4 separate regions of the Homo sapiens genome follow, and regions 1, 2 and 4 are each linked to region 3. Evidence: fine-mapped QTL for protein levels in blood plasma. A gene starts in region 3. Each other region holds a variant in brackets. All regions are shown on one strand. Distances are from middle to middle.

Region 1 (2,688 bases), 29 kb before region 3:
ACAAGTGAGAAGGGTACCATTTACTCTTGCACATTTTTCTAGCTGACTGAGAACCTTGAAGGAGAAGCATATTTAGTGCATATACAAAGAGTTCGTAAGGCAAAGGTTTATGTCTGGGCCCTGGGAAAATTTGGATGAGATAAAAAGGTCAGGAGTAGATTTTGAATGTTTGTCTGGTGAAATTACTATGCTTAGTTTAACTCTATACATGACAGAATATACTTGGGGAAAGATAAATTCCATTTTTGCAAGATCACTTTTCTAAGAATTTTCTAAAAAAAGATGACTAATATGTTCCACAAGCTTGGATCACTATAGATAAAAAGCAATTTTGTTGGGAAGTCTATCCACAAACCACAAAAGCCTAGCTTATATTTTCACGTACGCTCTTTGCAAAATTTCTTAGCTTTCCTACAACATTCAAATAATTCTTTTAGGAATTATTCTTAGAAAATATATATCTGCAAATGACATTTTAGACTATAAAAATCAAGGTCATGCTTCTCAGGGCTACATCTGTATTATCCCTGACATATATTTAGACATACAGATCTTCCACGAGGCTTTTTGGGAAGAAACATTTCCTGATTTAGCACCAGATACAGTTGGAGGAAGGATTAGAAATAAGACTTTATTCATAAATATCTTGAAGATTATTAACAACATAGTAAATTCTTAGCATGAGATTTTTAAGCAAACACATGGTACTGGCTCATTTTAAGGTTAAATAAATTACAATTTCATAACATAAAAAATGTTTTGAAGCTTTGCGTACTGTAGGCAATTATAACTTTGATTTACTTTGTAAAACATTTGAAAATCCAACTTATTTTGTCTTGTATAATGAGTCATAAAATTTCAAATTATCCCCTTTTAAACAAAATCCACACTATACTGCAAATGGCTTACCTTTAAAAAGTTATTCCTAGCTCTTGATTTCTTCTCTTCAAACACACAAAAAAATGTTAGATTGGATGCTATCTAAGGCTCCTTCTAATTCATCATCTCATGATTTGGCTAGTTACTGAGAGGACTGACTGTTCATAGGAGGTTAACACCAGAGGTCCTGAGTTGACTTTAATCTACTCCACTAGAATTAGGAAAATAATGGTCACTTACAGGTAAAGGATCGAAGTTTTCATCCACTAAATGGTAGTTTCCTGCTCCAAAGAATACTTGCCTCATCACCACTTCTATTCCCATTCGGGCTGACAGG[C/T]CCAATTTATCCAGCCACCTGGGACAGAGCAAGACCAAGCTTTCTTGAGGTTTGGAAACAAAATCGCTCAATTCTAATTGCACACCATCTTGATTTTATTTATGTATTTATTTATTTACTTATTTATTTATTTAGAGACAGGGTCTCACTCTGTCACCCAGGCTGGAGTGCAGTGGCGTGATCATAGCTCTCTGCAACCTCAAACTCCTGGGCTCCATTAATCCTCCTGTCTCAGCCTCCCAAGTAGCTGGGACTGAAACCGCCTTTGCAAAAATTATAACTGAGGAAATTATGACAGTGAAAGAGATCAGACCTCATTGACTCCATCTTGCTTCTAACCTTTAAGCTGTCCTTCTTCATTCCTGGGTGTAGGCTGAACTAACTTTGGGAAGAAATTCAGTTCATGGTTTGACTCTGAAACAAAAATGATAATAGCCCTTTTCTGAAAAGACCCCCTTCTTGCCTGGGGACAAGTCTACCTTTGCAGGACTAACAAATTAGCTACAACATTAGAGATTACGGTTTAGGGATAATGCAGCCTCTGGCTCCAAGAGTCTGAACCTCCCCAAATTGTTCCTGGGGATAACATCACTGTTGTAAAACCTAAGATCAGTGCTTGAGATATCTTGCAGACCCTGAACTGGGTGGATCATTTGAGACCACCCAGACCGGTAATCTGGCCCAACCAGTTCTGCCATCCCATCCAGGAACAGAAGACAGCAAGAAAACCTCACTTCCACTCCCTGTGATTCCATCTCCAACCTGACCAACCAGCACTCTCCACTTCCTAAGCCCCTACCGGCCAAATTATCCTTAAAAGCTCTGATCCTCGAATGTTCGGGGAGACTGATTTGAGTAATAATAAAACTCTGGTCTCCTGCACAGCTGGCTCTGCATAAATTACTCTTTCTCCTTTGCAATTCCCCTGTCTTGATAATTGGCTCTATCTAGACAGCAGGCAAGGTGAACCTGTTGGGTGGTTACAGGACCACAAGTGCATGCCACCATGCCTGGTTCTGGTTTATTGATCTTTGAGGGAGGAATTAACAGGAAGCCAGAAAAGTGTCATCAATTATAAATAAGTCATTTAAATGAAATGGCAACTGCATGCAGCAGCAGCAGCAGCAGCAGAATCCCTCCCTTTACATCTTTCCATATGATAACAAATCCTAGAAGACTATTACCATGCTAGAGGTATCCCTTTCAGGGTGAGACAAATTCCCACCTCTATAGACAATTCCTGGTCCTATGAGGTCCCTGCACAAACAATGTGTGAGGGCTGAAGAAAAAGTGGCAGTCAGCGGGGGTAAAATGTAAAATAAGCAGAATTGCACCTAAGCTATTATGGACACCTCTTCCCACTTCTCCTTCTCTATCCCCCTTCTCCCCGACACCCCAGATCTTTAGTTAATGGCAAAACAAACATCTCCATTCTTTATTCCTCTTGCTTCCATGGGCATAAAGGATTTGTG
Region 2 (2,688 bases), 33 kb before region 3:
CCTTCTTTATACCTTGGACTAAAAGCAAAGAGGTTAACTTAATAGAAATATGTATCTAATTTAAGCAATTAAAAACTCAATTACAAATGTGATCCTAAGTATTAGTATCCATAATGACAATCCATAATGCATCCTAAGTATTAGGATCCATAATGACAGTGGGCCCTCTTAGTATCCTTCTTTTATGATCGTTTTAGACCGCTAGTGTGCTCCTATTTTGAAAACACAATTAAAAATGTTGCCGTTCATGCTACCAATGTCTGGGCTAGAGCACACTGAGATCCTCACAGCTCTGCCAGCTGGGTTGTTAAGAGGCCAGCCAGACTATCCATTTTCAGACATAGGAAGGTAAAAGGCAAATTTTGTGGGTTCATGTGAATTCAAATTATAAACCATAAAAACAGGGGCTTTTCCTAGCCTTATAAAAAGACTGAAATGTATAAGAAAATTAAATCTACTGACATTTTTTATGAATTTATCCATTCAAACCATTCCCCTCGCTACTTCCTACTGGGGTCCTCACTATCCAGAGTTCCCAGTCACCAACAATCGGAAATGGTAGCTGGTCTTTTTTGGCTAGAATTAGTATTTCAGCATCATCTTATCAGGAATGATAGATTGAAACCTATCTAGAGAATATTCCTGAGATTTAGGAACATTTTTTGCTACCTAAAGCAAGAGTATGAGGCTACAAAAATCTCGATGTCTTCTCAACTCCAGAAACTGCGGTCACAACTTTTGAAAATAATATTGTTGTTATTATTGTTCTCCTCTTCAAGAATCACTTGAACCCGGGAGGCGGAGGTTGCAGTGAGCTGAGATTGCACCACTGCACTCCAGCCTGGGTGACGAGCGAGGCCCCGTCTCAAAAAACAACAACAACAAAAGTAGCATTTTTCTTCTAAAAATAAAATAAAATAAAATCGTTGTATAAAACTTTACTAAATTGCAACTGCCTATACTTATGCAATGTATAGACACATGCAACAGGGTGTTTGAGTAAAGTTACAGGCTTACCCACTAAAACTTGATGATTGGTAAAGGGTGTGTTTCATACTTACTTGTCAGTGTTTGTGCAATGAAGGTATACTCGAAGCTTCCTTCTCTTTGAACCTTGCACGCTTGCCATTAACACCTTGGTGCCCACCAATTTCTTGAACAGAAGAGATAGCCAATAATCCTAG[T/C]TGTGGTGGTTGGGGAGAAAGAGACAAAAATAGATGTTTACTTATGTCCTTATTTAATGAAACCAGTGGCAAGCAAATAGTTATCCTACAAAGAGTATCACTGTTATCCTGGGGGCATTTAAATAGGATTCATCTTTTTTTTTTTTTTCCCCTCACATGTGACCACCATGAATCTGAGAGCAGTATCGTGCTTGCTGCTTTTTATCACTGGAGGACACAATTCAAAAGGCCATAGCCTGTAGGGGATATCTGTCAAGAATGATCAGAGTTTAAGTATTCTTGGTTATCGTTCATCCAAGAATTCAAAGCAAAGCTCAAAGCCAAACTTTTAGACACACACACATACACAAACACATGTACACACAAAGACAAATTTTTAAAGTAAAACTTCTGTCTGTTTAGAGACAAATAATTTCATTTAGGCCAGGCACGGTGGCCAAAGTGTAATCCCAGGATTTTGGGAAGCTGAAGTGGGTAGATCACTTGAACCCAGGAGTTCAAGACCAGTCTGGGAAACATGATGAAACCCCTTCTGTACACAAAATACAAAAAATTAGCCAGGTGTGGTGGTGTGCACCTGTAGTTCCAGGTACCCAGGAGGCTGAGGTGAGAAGATCACCTGATCCCAGGAGGTCAAGGCTGCAGTGAGCCGTGATTGTGCCACTGCACTCCAGCCTGGGAAACGAAATGAGACACTGTCTCAAAATAACAGTTAAAAAAATCTTAAAAAAAAATTTATTTTAAAACCTTATTCCCCCCACCCCAATAAAGTAATGGATTAGGCAATGGTCATCAGTAGCTGTCAAGATCAAAACCAGACACAACCAGACATTCTGTGCTTCCAGAAGCAGATAATAAAGAATTCTTGCAAAAAAATACAATTAAAAACCTGAATAAACTCAAGCTTCTAGGTATAACTACCAGTTTACAGGAAACACAGGGGACAGAGGAACATGCTAAATGATATCATAGGGAATAAATTTAGCAAACTCTATAATGTAGGAAATACTATAGAACAAATTACCTGTTTTTTCACATTAATAAATTACAAGAGATGAAAGAGAGGGAGGAATAACTTAAAGATGAACAAACTTAAGAGACTTATCAACCAAATGTAATATATGGACCTTGTTTGGATTCTGATTTGAATAACTATCAACAATATTTTAGACAAGGAAAATGTGAGACACTGACAAAATATTTGGTGATACTAAGGAATTATTGTTATTATTTAAAGTATGATAAAAGTATTGTGTTTTTACAAAAAGGATACATACTAAAATATGTATTTTTTTGAGACATGGTCTTACTCTGTCACCCAGGCTGGAGTGCAGTGGTGTGAATGCAGCTTACTGCAGCCTCAACCTCCTGGGCTAAAGCGATCCTCCTGCCTCAGCCTCTCATGTAGCTGGGACCACAGGCATGTGCCACCATGCCCAGATAAGTTTTTGATTTTTTGTTGCCGTAGCTGGTCTTGAACTCCTGGGCTCAAGTGATCCTCCTG
Region 3 (2,688 bases):
TGCAGCCCCATTTTGGAGAGACATCTTTTTATTAGGACTTTGTAAGTCACTGCAGTAGTCTCCTAGGTCTCATTTATTGAATATTTAGATTTTTATTCCTGTTCTGTGACGCCCTTTTCATCTGCCTAAAAAAAAAAAAAGAAAAGAAAAAAGAAAAAGAAAAGAAAAGAAAGAGAAATCTTCCTAACACAGTCTTAAATACAGAAGGCTATGCACAATCTTACTTGTCCTACACTGCACAGCAAATCAAGCACTCACAGGCCTTCAGGTGCACCTGCCTGGTTTCCCTCCTCTTGGCTAGGGAAGTACTGGGGCAAGTGGGCAGTTTCTTTTTCAAATTTCCACTTATACCTGACCTTAGGTGGTGCCTATTCAACACTTACAGAATGAATGAAACAAAAAGGCTCATTTAGAGTGGGCGCTAAACAATGTGTACACATGGACTTAGTGGAATAGTAGACACTGGAGACTCCAAAAGGTGGGAGGGTGGGAGAGGGATGAGGGATGAGAAATTACCTATTAGATACAATGTACAACATTCGGGTGACAGTTACACTAAGAGCCCAGATGCCACCACAATGCAATATACCCATGGAACAGAACTGCACTTGTAACCCCTAAATCTATTTTTTAAATGATACCCCCCAAAAAGCAGTTTGGGGTCTGAGAGTAAGGGAGGGAGAGGGAGAATGAGAGGCGGGAAGTGGGGTGGGGAGAGACAGGCGGGGAGGTTCCGGTGTGAAGTTGTTTCCGCGCAAAAGAAGGAGAGCGGCTGGCGGGGCAGACATAGGTGTCAGGAGGACAGGAAAGGGGACAGGACCAGGAGGCTGGCGCTTACCCCAGGAGGATGAGGAACCGCGGGTCCGTGGCCAGGTTGGCGTCAATGGTGACGGACAGGAACGAGGGGCTCACCAGGTGCAGCGGCTCCTGGGTGAAGAAGTCCAGGTCCACGACGTCCTGTGCTTGCGCAGGTCGGGGCAGGGCGCCAGGGGAGAGGGGACCCAGCGGCCCCAGGAGCAGCAGCATCAGCGGCGGCGGCAGCGCAGGCTTCGAGCGCAGCAGCATCTTGGGCTCACCTGGCTGCTCCCCCCGCCAGCTGCCGCGCAGCGGAGAGTCGAGAGCTCTAGCACTTCCTCCCGCCGAGCCCCAGCGCCCTTTTCTCCTTTCCTCCGCCCCGTTACGCCTCCTCACCCCTCCCACTGCGCCCTCCATCCCTCCCACTCCTCTTCTGCATCCCTCCCACTGCTCCCAATCCAACCCCGCCCCGCCTGCCCGGCTCTCTCCTACTTCCTTGCTCGCTTTCCCCTCGGTGGCGGTCACGTTCACTTACGAAATCACCCACACCCACTTGAAGGGTGCGGAGATGGCCGGGATCCAAGCGCCCGGGAGGCCTGGGGAGGAGCGCCCGGGGAGGAGCGCCCGGGGAGCAGCGCTGGGCATCCCGGACCAGGCTTCCTGACGCACGTGTTCTGCGCGCTCTCGTGGGAACCCAGCGTTTCCGACTCCCAGATCCCATTCTGATGGCGCCGGGTATCCCTCTGACCCTCGAGTAAAACCTCCAATGGAGTATTCATCCCTTCCTCTCCCATCTAGCTTATAAACACTTGCTTGTCACTTGAGCCAGCCAAAATCTGATTGTCCTCTGGCCAGGCAGTTTCTCAGGTATTTTACTTTTGCTTGAAAAAATCTGGCCTCAGCATACGCTAAACTGCAGCTGGAAAGAGATCAACCACCCAAAATTCTTTATCAACTTCTCATTAAGACAATATTTAGCAATCTTAAAGGGTTAGTTGCTCCAATGTCTGGAACTCAGGACCTGAAGCCCCCATACAAAGTGTAGAGTACGGACTGCCCCTGAATTTGGAGCCTTTGCCAAATTTCTCCTCTGCGCATTTATCTTTCGCTGTTGGTCAGACTTTTCTTCAGCTTTTCCTTGATGCTTACACTGATGTATAATCATAGCAAGCATCGCACGCTTAGTGCCTACTGTATGCCTGATACAGGTGCTTTACTTGTGTTCTCTTCCCTTCTCACAACCCTGCCAAGTGCATACTGTCCTTGTTTTACACATGCGGACCCAAGCTCTGAGACAGTAACTGGGTGAAGTGTCAGAATCGGGATGTGAAGTGTCAGAATCGGGATGTGAATGCAGTTACAAAACCTCGAGCAGATGGCAGTGTGTTTCAGCTGAAATGTAACTTCCCTCAAGGAAGCTTTCTCTCAATCTCCAGGCAGCTCTCCATGACACACTCTCATAGCATCCTCAATTTGTTAGACACTCTCGTAGCATCCTCAATTTGTTAGACACTCTCGTAGCATCCTCAATTTGTTAGTATTGTGATGTTGCTCAACATTGGCTTCATCTACTAGATTATATGCTCCACCAAAACAGAGATTAAGTTTGTCTCACACGCTATGCTAGCCATAGCTCAGGCATGTGATCATGTTGGTGCTTAGTAAGAGTCTAATAAATATTGGTTGAGTAAGCAAATAACACCAAAACCCTTAGATTTTTCCACTTGAGATTGTACCACCAATAAGGCAACAAATAAAAATAGATTATTTTGAAATGCATATCTAATTTGCATAAATCAGGCCAGGCATGGTATGTGATGCCAGTGATGCCATCATGCCTGTGATGCCAGCATTTTGGGAGGCCAAGGTGGGAGGATTGCTTGAGCCGAGGAA
Region 4 (2,688 bases), 39 kb before region 3:
CCACTGCGCCCAGCCATTTTTAATAACTTTAAATAAAGACTGGTTGTGGTGGCTAATCGCTGTCCCCACAGGTATTATAGTCTTTCGCTGACTAGCAACACTGCACAGAGGTAACATCAAATGATCTCCTGCTGTACCATGCTGTACTCCCAAAGAAATCCCAGCACCTGGAAGGCCAAGGTGGGAGGATCAATTGAGTCCAGGAGTTCAGGACCAGTTTGGGTAACATAGCGAGACCCCATCTCTACAAAAAATTTTTTAAAAATAGCCAAGTGTGATGGCATGTGTCTGTGGTCCTAGCTACTTGGGAGGCTAAGCAGGAGGATGACTTGAGCCCAGGAGTTAAAAGGCTGCAGTGATCTATGATTGCACCACTGCACTCAAGCCTGGGCAACAGAATGATACCCTGTCTCAAAAATAAAACACTGCTGGGTGTGGTGGCTCACACCTGTAATCCCAGCACTTTGAGAGGCTGAGGCGGGTGGATCACTTGAGGACAGGAGTTCGAGGACAGGAGTTCGAGACCAGCTTGGCCAATATGGCGAAACTCCATCTCTACAAAAAATATAGAAAGTAGCTGGGCGTGGTGGCACACGCCTATAATCCCAGCTACTCAGGAAGCTGAGGCAGGAGAATTGCTTAAAGTTGCAGTGAGCCAAGATCGCACCATGGCACTCCAGCCTGGGTGACAGAGAGAGATTCTGTCTCAAAATAAATAAATAAATAAATAATAAAACAAAACAAAACTTTAGATAAAAGTAAAACATGCAAAATGCTAAGCAGTATTTGGAACAAGGTATTATTAGCTATTATTATTAGCAGTGTTCTACCTAGCGAGATCAAAATACTGTGCTAAATCTAGCACTGACAGTGTCCCAGTGTCTCTCAAGCACCCACTAGTTGCTTTGCAAGGTATCTGCTTCCTTTCCTATAACTTGAGTTGCTTTACTCTTAGTATACTTGAAAAATTCAGTGTCAGGACTAGTATATTTTATTTTCAGATGCAAGCAGCAACTTTGGCATTTCTTATCACAAAAAAACTATATGAGAAAGCTGGCAAGCCCAGTGAACTTCCTGGCCGGAGAGGTTTTTCCATTAAAGGTGGCAAGGTTTGATCATCCACCATCTTTAGAGTTAGACCATTGAGTT[G/A]GACAGATCTGCAAAGGAGAAAGATACACCGAGTTAACCAAGTGGTGCATGCCCCACCCATGCTGCTACAAAAGTCATGAAATCTTTTTTAGACCAAATAAATTTTTTTTTGTGGCAGCCTATATTATATAACTTGTATTTCAACACTATATCACTTAGGCATTTGACCTAGATAATCTTTAAGCTACAATGGCAGGGATGAGTAGTTATGATAGAGACCATATGGACTCCAAAGCCAGAAATACTTACTGTCTGGCCCATTACAGAAAATGGAACACACACAATCTATATACTAGGCAATATGATGGTGGTATAAAAAGGATAAACATGACACAACTTCTGGAATGGTGGCTATTTTATTTAATGGCCAATAATTGAAACCTTTTTTATGTAAAGAAAATAGATATATAGAATTGAATGCAGTTTTTATGAATTTAGCATAAATGGTAGCCAATGAAATTTCTCACTTGTAACTATGCCCATAAACTGCCTAACTCCCCTCTCCCTGCAGGAGGTATGCATTCATTTTCTTACTGTTATTAAGAAATTTTGGTAGAATGCTGTGGTGAAACAAAAACAATTTGGCTAAACTACAGAAAATTTTATATTTTCTATGTATTTCACTATTGGAATTCAAATTAAAAACTGTTGAACGTTCTTAAAAATTAAGGAAAAGTGTTATTTCTTATACATACTTATTATTTAAATCAAATTAATGCATATTCACAGGAGCGAATCAATATAGGCAAGAGCTTATGAAGAAAAGCTTTAGTCGGCTGTAGGTCTATTGATATTTTCATAATTCTAAATAAGATGCTTATATCTCTTTTTCTCAAATATGTTTTATATTGTCAACAAAGTTAGCACTCTTTAAATATTGAAAACTTGTAAGATTAGGCCGAGCACAGTGGTTCACACCTGTAATCCCAGCACTTTGGGAGGCTGAGGCAGGCAGATCACTTGAGGCCAGGAGTTCAAGATCAGCCTGGCCAACATGGCAAAACTCCATCTCTACCCAAAAATACAAAAATTAGCCGGGCATGGTGGTGTGTGCCTGTAGTCCCAGCTACTCAGGAGGCTGAGACATGAGAATCGTTTGAACCTGGGAGGCGGAGGTTGCAGTGAGCCGAGATTGCACCACTGCACTCCAGCCTGGTAGAGCAAGATTCTGTCTAAAAAAAGAAAAAAAAAAAAAAGAAAAGAGAACGTATAAGATTAGTTACTGTCAGAGTTATATTTATATCATTTAGGTAATACATGTAAAGTATGTAGAACACTTATAACAGTGTCTTTTATATAGTAAACACTATAAAAGTATTATCTATCATCATTATTATTACTAAGATAAATAAAAGTAACCTAAGTCATTATAACCATTTTAAATATTTTGATGTATATTCATTCTTTCATCTATTTTTTGTGTACATGTATACAGTCATATGCCACATAAGGATGTTTTGGTCCACCATGGACCGCATATATAAGTGTGGTTCCATAAAATGATAAAATTATAATTCCTATTGCCTAGCAATGTCATAG

Alleles and levels. Alleles are on the strand shown, and positions count from the first base shown. The strength of an association depends on the size of the effect and on how common the allele is. Not every link is listed here.
For the plasma level of the protein whose gene starts at base 1,131 in region 3, T is the low allele of the variant in region 1 and C is the other (weak association).
For the plasma level of the protein whose gene starts at base 1,131 in region 3, A is the low allele of the variant in region 4 and G is the other (weak association).

The links. PIP is the posterior inclusion probability: the model's chance that the variant is causal. The UK Biobank Pharma Proteomics Project read protein levels with antibody pairs (Olink). The fine-mapping took linkage between variants from a reference panel, not from the people measured, so its PIPs are less certain.
Region 1: its variant is fine-mapped to the plasma level of the HPSE protein (UK Biobank, PIP above 0.99). The variant lies in the coding sequence of HPSE. If it changes the protein, the assay may bind it differently, which can mimic a change of level.
Region 2: its variant is fine-mapped to the plasma level of the HPSE protein (UK Biobank, PIP above 0.99).
Region 4: its variant is fine-mapped to the plasma level of the HPSE protein (UK Biobank, PIP above 0.99). The variant lies in the coding sequence of HPSE. If it changes the protein, the assay may bind it differently, which can mimic a change of level.

The regions. Positions count from the first base shown.
Region 1 is chr4:83,305,084-83,307,771 of GRCh38, forward strand. It overlaps HPSE (heparanase), which reads right to left. Exons shown (of 12, transcript NM_001098540.3): 9 at 1,120-1,234. Among named protein-coding and RNA genes, the nearest start is that of COQ2, 22 kb to the left of the region's middle. The variant C/T (reference allele first, on the strand shown) is at 1,217.
Region 2 is chr4:83,301,089-83,303,776 of GRCh38, forward strand. HPSE (heparanase) reads right to left here. Exons shown (of 12, transcript NM_001098540.3): 10 at 1,062-1,180; 11 at 1-18. Among named protein-coding and RNA genes, the nearest start is that of COQ2, 18 kb to the left of the region's middle. The variant T/C (reference allele first, on the strand shown) is at 1,185.
Region 3 is chr4:83,333,718-83,336,405 of GRCh38, forward strand. HPSE (heparanase) reads right to left here and starts at 1,131. Exons shown (of 12, transcript NM_001098540.3): 1 at 839-1,131. The coding sequence starts at 1,065.
Region 4 is chr4:83,294,347-83,297,034 of GRCh38, forward strand. It overlaps HPSE (heparanase), which reads right to left. Exons shown (of 12, transcript NM_001098540.3): 12 at 1-1,157. The coding sequence ends at 998. Among named protein-coding and RNA genes, the nearest start is that of COQ2, 11 kb to the left of the region's middle. The variant G/A (reference allele first, on the strand shown) is at 1,150.